2 linked regions of the Homo sapiens genome follow. The protein of the gene in region 1 purifies or fractionates together with the protein of each later gene. This does not show direct contact. Each region holds a gene or a part of one and is shown on either strand. Other genes may lie near its edges. The genes, in order: ASPHD1 and POMP.

Region 1 (3,907 bases):
AGCTTGCAGTGAGCCAAGATCGTGCCACTGCACTCTCGCCTGGGCGACAGAGCGAGACTCCTCAAAAAAGAAAAAAGTGTAGGCTTCAGGATCAGAGAGACTAGAGCACTTAACTAGAATGTTCTAGACTGTTGAAAGCTTTCTTTTTTAAATTTCAGCTTGTGTTTATGAGTACTTTCTTGTCACCCAGGCTGGAGTGCAGTAGCACAATCTCAGCTCACTGCAGCCTCAAACTGCTGAGCTCCAGTGAACCTCCCACCTCACCCTCTCCAGTAGCTGGGACCATAGGCATGGGCCACCGCGCCCGGCTAATTGTTTTATTATTTGTAGAGACAAGGTCTCACTGTGTTGTCCAGGCTTTTTATGAGTACTATTTAGGGCAAGTAATACTGATAGTGCTATAAATATTTCTTTTAAATACGTAGAACAAAAGGTCGGGGGGAGAGCCAAGGTGAAGAAACGCAGTACAGATGGGAATGACCACGGCAAAGCTTATGAAGGTGGTGTGCAGATAACCGAGGCTGAGGAAATGCTGCTGTGGGTGGCAACAGGGAGCCATGGAAGAAGAGAGGCACAATGAGAACCAGACAGCAGACGGCTCTGGCGGAGAGAAGGGTCTGGGGGGGAAATCATCGAGGCAAGGAGGTTGTCAGTAGGCGGCAGCTACTTACCCAGATGGCATCTGACCCGGGCATTGGTGGGCCCACAGCGGCCCTCGAGCCGGGCCCCAGGCAGGAGAACGGAAAAGCCGGCATTGCCGAAGGTGTTGGCACTCATAAAGCTTCGAAGCCCCCTCAGTGCCCGATAGGCCCCCGGGCACCGGCGGCAGTTGCTGGGTTGGCACCGGCCTGCTTGGTACAGCAGGAGCTGGTAGCACCCGGGGGCCAGAGGTGGGGACCAGCCCCGAGGCGGAGGGGTAGTCCCTGAGAAGTCCCAGCTCACAGCCCCGAAGTCCCGCAAAATGGCAGGGAAGCTGCTCTCCAGGAGCTCCACGTCGTGCCGCTGGGCGTCCCGCGGCACAAAGGGGGCTGAAGGCAGGTCTGGTAGGAAAAGCAGGCCTGGGCGCTGAATACCTAGGACCCCTGGCCCTCTCCCAGGGCCTGGGCCACCCTGAGCTGCCCGCCTCACTCTACCCATCCCAGCCCAGGAGTAGCGCCTTGCGTAGGCCCGAAGCCGCCGGCTCACTAGGCCTTCCGTCCTAGGTCCTTCCCCGGGATCCCCAGGACCCCCTGGGCTTGGCCCGCCGGCCTCCGAGCATCCCACAGGCCCACCACGAACACCCCCAGCTCGGCTCCCAGCCCCTAGGGCCTGCATGTCTTGGGAGCCCAGGCGGTAGCAGTACCAGAGGAACAGGGAAGTGAGGGCCCCGAAGAGCAAGGTGAGGGCCGAGGAGGCCAGGGGTAGTGGCCACGGGAGCATGATCAGGGAGGCCCTGGCCAAGAGGCCTGGGGCGTCCTCCGGACCCCAGTTCCCCTGTCCCCCCAGCTCCCCACCTGTCCCTTCCATGGCTGCCCCCTGGCTCCCCGCTGGACTGTTTCCCTTCCACATTCCACTCTGGGCTGTCTCTCTCTCCTTCCGCGGTCCTCTCTCCACGCTGAAGCTCCCTCTCCCCTCCTTCATGCACCTCCAACCCTCCTCTCTCCTTTCTCTCCCCTTTCTCTCTCCTTCTACCTCTTCTTCCTCCTCTCCCTCTGTCGCCTCCTCACCCTCTTCTTTCTCCTTCCAGCAGCCTCCTCTCTCTCGCTCTGCTTCTCTCTCCCACCTCAATCTCCCCCTTTCCTCCCCACCCCCGCTTTTCGCTCGCTCTCTCTCCCCGCTTCCTCCTAGCTCCCCTGGGCAGCGGTTCCTACCCTGCCTGGACCTGCAGTCCCGGGAACCCGCAGCCTGTCTTCCTCCGCGGCAGCTTCTTTCTCTCCGGCCTCACTGCTCTCTCCTTGCCCTCGCTCCTCACTAGCCCCGACCCTGCGGTCCTGCCTGGCTCTCGCTCCCTCTCTCCTACTCGCTCCTTCCTGGGCTCCCACTCACCCTGACGTCACTCCTTCCCGGAGCCCTCTCAGCTCAGCCACCCCCGAACCCTCCCAGTGGCACAGCAAATCAGCCGGGTGCCGGGGGAGGGGGGAGAGTTGTCGCTGGAGGTGCCTCCCCACCCCCCCCGCCCGGAAAGGGCGCCACGTGGGGCGCAGGGGCCACGGTGCCAGCCTCCAGCCGTCCCGCAATGCGAAAGAAGGGGCGGGTCGTATCGGGCGGGGCCTGAGGGGCGGGGCCTGAGGGGCGGGGCGAGCGCGGACTGACGGCTGGGCAGGCGCCCGGGACTGCGGGCAAGGATGCTGAGGCCAGTCCGTCGGGCGGCTGGTCCGTCGGTCGGTCGGCCTGTGACTCCCGCTGGCCCTAGGCAGCCCGGGAGCCCGCGAGCCTGGCAAACACCGAAAGCGGCCTCAGCCAATCGCGGGCGGCGTCGGGCCGGGCCCGCCCCGGCGGGGCGAGGGGAGCTGTCCGCGCGCCGCTGGTGCTGAAAAGGGCGCTCCGGAGGGAAAATCAGAGCCGAGGCCGCCTGTTAGCTGGCCGGGGTCAGGGTTTATGGAAGAGGAGGGGTCTGTCTCTCCTCCCCAAACCCCGGCCCGTCACCCACGAGACTTGTCACAATCGTGGAAGCTCTCTATTCCCCTGGAGGAGGGAGAGCCCATTCCACCCGAGCTACTGTAAAAGGGGAAGGGAAGCCCCTTGGGAGGTCTGAATGTGAACAGGGGGCATAATTGGGGGCCTAGCAGGCGCGAACCAAGCTATGCAGCCCCTCGGCACCCTGGGAAGAGGAGATTCAGATTCCAGATGTGCTGGAATGGCAGGCGGAGGGGGCTAATTACTGCTGGGACCAGAGAGTTTCCTTTGCCTCCCCTAGGGGCCGCGGGAGTGAGGATTACGGCCCTGGCTCGTATGATCCCTCCCTCCTCCATCTGCACTTCCTCCTCCTCCCTCCCCGTCAAATAAATCCCAGGCCCCTCCCTCCGCCCGTCCCCAGGATCTGACGTGGGCTCGATACCTTTCTCAGCTTCTCCCTCCCGCAGCTCCAGTGCCCGAGCTTCGGCTCTCCCAGTTCCCCAACCCACCCCTTCCCCTCCCCGACAAGCCCCGCTAGAGCCCAGTGGAGACCCCCTCGATCCTCGACCCCACCCTAAACCCCCAGAAGCTGTCTTTCTCCTCCCCAGTCCCCTAGCTTGGGGTCCAGACAGCCCAGTGGACCCAGGCGCCTGAGCAGGAGGGTAACCCAGGCCACCCGGCCCCTTCGGCCCTCTCGGCCCCACCCCCTGCAGCCGGAGCCGCGCCCCCTCCACCACAGAGCCGCGAGAAGAGGACAGAGGAGACTGAGCAAAGGGGGGTGGGCTCCAGGCGACCCCTAGCCCAATTCTGCCCCTCCATCCCAAGGGGCAGAGAAATTGTCTTTCTTTGCTGACTCCTACGAGGAAAAAAAAAAAAAAAAAAAAAACAATTAAAGGGAAAGATAAACGGAGACGGAGGAAAGGTGGCAGCCAGATTACTTAGAGAGGCACAGAGGAGAGAGATCGGGGTGAGTCGCCATGGGGACTCCCAGGGCCCAGCACCCGCCGCCTCCCCAGCTGCTGTTCCTAATTCTGCTGAGCTGTCCCTGGATCCAGGGTAAGGACATGAGACTGTGGGGGTGGGCCCCAGGAAGGCGTCCAGCGGGGTCCTCCACCCTCCTTTCTCTTAATATCCTGGGTCTTCCGAGCACATGGGGGAGGGGAGAGGCACAGCTGATGGGGAAGGGGCAAGCCAGAGCTTTCAGGCTTGAACCCGAAGCCCCTTAACCCTCAATATTGAGAAGGCAGAGAAATGAATGAGAGAAGCTTTTAGCAGTGTCTCAGGGGCTAGATCCAAGAAGGAGGGCTGGGAA
Region 2 (3,807 bases), on another chromosome or scaffold:
TTATGGAGCCCTTGTAATTTAAAAGGCAAACAGCTGCAAAAAGAATAGGCAAAATTCTTGTCCTCATGGAACTTACAGCTGATTGGGTTCACTTTATTCATTGCATTAAGATAAAGTTTAATGGTAGTAACTGTTCTTTAACTGTTTTTAAAAGTGAAGATTGGCTGGGTGCGGTGGCTCACGTGTAATCCCAGCACTTTGGGAGGCCGGGGTGGGCAGATCACCTCAGGTCAGGTGTTTGAGACAAGCCTGGCCAACATGGTGAAACCCTGTCTCTACTAAAAATATAAAAAGAAAAAAAGTGAAAATTATTTATGAAATTCTAAGAGTACATAGTCATTTCAGTCTAGTAATGGTGGTTATTCACTTCATGTCCTGAGCTTCAAGTGTAATATGTCAGTCTGATATTCCTAGGGTGACTTAAACAATGATAATTATTTCAGAATTCACATTGTTGGGATGTGACTGGTGTTGTTTTTGTGTGTTTAGTTTGATTTTGGGGTTTTTTGACTAGCATTTTAAACAACTGGAAAATAAATCTTTCTTTAAAAAGTAGCTCCCCAAAAAAGTAATTTTTGTACTTCTACAGGTGATAAATAGGAAAGAGGAATCTGTCTTTTTTTTTTTTTTTTTCAAGATGGAGTCTTGTGCTGTTACCCGGGCTGGAGTGCAGTGGCGCAATCTCAGCTCACTGCAACTTCCGCCTCCTGAGTTCAAGCAATTCTCCTGCCTCAGCCTCCCAAGTAGCTGGGATTACAGGCACCCATCACCACACCCGGCTAATTTTTGTATTTTTAGTAGAGACGGGGTTTTACCATGTTGGCCAGGCTGGTCTCGAACTCCTGACCTTGTGATCTGCCCGCCTCGGCCTCCCAAAGTGCTGGGATTAGAGGCGTGAGCCACTGCACCCGGCCGAATCTGTTATTTTTAATAAAATTCCCTGAATAATTGTAAATGAATTTAAGTAAGAACAATATATGCAGCATCCTCTATTTTTTCTGGTCCTGAGGAAGATAAACAAATACAATCCTGTCCAATGCTGCCTCTGCTCGTTATGCCCCAGCAGTGCAGGAGAAACAAAAATATCCAACAGGATTAAGTTTTATTAGTTTTGCTTGGCTGCTGATGTCCGGTAAGGAAATGCTGTGGACATAACAGAAGTCTAGTGAGCCTCCTTTCAGAATCTTCCCTGAGGGAGCATTTTGGATGCAGGAAAAGCTGGGATTCTTAAGCTTTTACATTGAACTTAGACCTTATTTAAAACTACTAAGGTGATAGTTCAGGTCTTTAGTTACAAAAGCATTCATTTAAAAATCTGCTTCTGTAATTCTGTTTAAAGAAAGGGAGAGGGACTTAGGAGCATTTATCTAGTCAGTCAAATATGTGTCAGGCACTGGGCTAGGCTCTGAATATACAGCTGTGAACAAAACAAATATCTGTGCTTTCAAATGGGGGAGATAAACACATAAACACAAATATACAATTTGATAATTCTAGGAATAAAAAGGATGTTTTTGGGTTGGGAGGGCACATACCTCTGGGAATACAACACAGAAGTGAATTTCTGAAAGAAACATGAAATCATTGACCTAGAAGTAGAAGGAGAGTATTTCAGACAGAAGAGATGAGTATGTTCAGGGTATGTAACCTGAGAACAGCTGAAGAACTCTGAACGGTTTGAGATCTTACTCTACTTTGAAGCTAACTTGTTAGCCTGCCATGAATTCATGGATGCTGGCAGAAGACAAGAGACTCCTAAAGGACAGTTTCTTATTCATAGCAATAGCGTAGCCAGAGTATCAGCATTTCTTTTGGTTCCCTTAGCCCCACTTCCTATGGGGCAGCTAAGAAGAGGGTAAGGTGAAGCCTTGTACATTGAGTGTGTTACGTTAGAGGAGAGGAACTCCATGTTCAGGCCACCTCAGCCTTATAACTGGCAGTAAACCTGCCTGTCCTGTGCTGCTTTGTCTTATGAGGCTGAAACGGCTTTGGAAAGATAGCCTAGAACAAAGGCAGTTTAGTGTCTCTGCTCCCAGCTTGCAGAATGGAGAGACCAATAGAGAACTGTCTCCCAGCATATATAAGAGCACTTTAAGAAGGCCCATATGGCTGGCATGTTTTGAGCAAAGTAGAGAGTAGAATAAGGTTGAGATCAAAAAGCTCAGCAAGGAACAGATGAATCAGGGCCTACAGACCATGAAAAGAAGTTTAGAATTTCTTCAGAATGCAAAAAAAGGCCATTGAGCAGTTTTAAGTAAGGATGTAATGTGATGGAATTATATGTTTAAAAAGGTCACTAGCTGGCTGGATGTGGTGGCTCAGATCCATAATCCCAGCACTCTGGGAGGCAGAGGTGGGAGGATCAGTTTAGCCAAGGAGTTTGAGACCAGCCTGGGTAAGATGAGACCCTGTCTCTACAATTTTTTTTTTTTAAATTAATTGGGCATAGTGGTGTGCAGCTGTAGTCCCAGGTACTCAGGAGGCTGAGGCAGGAGGATCACTTGAGCCCAGGAATTTGAGGCCACAGTGAGCAGGGATCACACCAGTGTACTCCAGCCTGGGCGACAGAGTGAAACCCTATCTCAAAAAATAAAAAATAAGCCACTTGCTATCTTGTGGGCATCTTTTAAAATTCATTCCTTGTGTCTCTCTAAGGTAGCTATTAGGAAAAATCACCTGTTTAGGTAGATTTTTTTTGTTTTGGAGACACGAGTCTAGCTCTGTCACCCAGGCTGGAGTGCAGTGGCGCGATCTCGGCTTACTGTAACCTCCACCTCCTGGGTTCAAGCAATTCTCCTGCCTCAGCCTCCCAGGTAGCTGGGATTACAGGTGCCCACGACCACACCTGCCTAATTTTGTATTTTAGTAGAGTCAGGGTTTCACCATCTTGGCCAAGCTGGTCTCAAATTCCTGACCTCCGGTAGTCTGCCCGCCTCAGCCTCCCAAAGTGCTGGGATTACAGGCGTGAGCCATCACGCCCGGCCAGGTAGATGATTTTTATCCACCTGGTAGATGATTACAGTGAGACCACTGTATTTGGGGTAGTTTTTTTCTTGTGGGAACTGTTATTGCATAATATACGGTTAACTTAGGGCTTCACCTTAGGGACCTGAATTAGCTGTTCCTTTCTGCCTCAAATAGTTTACCCTCATTTTTCAGATCCCAACCTAAATATTACTCAGAGAGTCCTCCGTTAACTACTGTTAGTCTGTTCTTGCATTGCTATAAAGAAATACCTGAAGCTGGGTAATTTGTAAAGAAAATTTATTTTGGCATATGGTTCCTCAGGCTGTACAGGAAGCATAGTGCTGGTATCTGCTTCTGGTAAGGGCCTCAGGAAGCTTACAATCGTGGCAGAAGACAAAGGGGGGCCAGTGAATTATATGGCGAGAGGGAGCAAGAGAGTGAGGGGGCTGCCACACAGCTTTAAACAACCAGAACTTGTGTGAACTCAGAACAAGAACTCACTTATCCGGGGGGTGGTGCTAGACCATCCATGAAGTGTTCAACTCTGTGGTCCAGTTACCTCCCTACAGGGCCACCTTCCGCACTGGGAATCACATGGCTTTGTTTTTTTTCTCTCTCTGTCACCCAGGCTGGAGTGCAGTGGCGCGATCTCTGCTCACTGCAAGCTCTGCCTCCCGGGTTCAAGCGATTCTCCTGCCTCAGACTCCTGAGTAGCTGGGACTACAGGCGCCCACCACCACGCCTGGCTAATTTTTTGTATTTTTACTAGAGATGGGGTTTCACCGTGTTAGCCAGGATGGTCTCGATCTCCTGACCTCGTGATCTGCCCACCTCGGCCTT

The links.
Region 2: the proteins of ASPHD1 (region 1) and POMP purify together in Homo sapiens (affinity purification with mass spectrometry; one large-scale study listed by BioGRID and IntAct). This does not show direct contact.

Annotation. Positions count from the first base shown.
Region 1 is NC_000016.10:29,898,685-29,902,591, reverse strand, and holds the start of ASPHD1 (aspartate beta-hydroxylase domain-containing protein 1), read right to left. Parts: upstream 2,105-3,907; 5' UTR 1,621-2,104; coding exon 672-1,620; intron 1-671. Other genes in the region: SEZ6L2 (seizure 6-like protein 2 isoform 5 precursor), read left to right, coding at 3,573-3,651.
Region 2 is NC_000013.11:28,672,455-28,676,261, forward strand, and holds part of POMP (proteasome maturation protein), read left to right. Parts: intron 1-3,807. UniProt on the Homo sapiens protein: Molecular chaperone essential for the assembly of standard proteasomes and immunoproteasomes. Degraded after completion of proteasome maturation. Mediates the association of 20S preproteasome with the endoplasmic reticulum.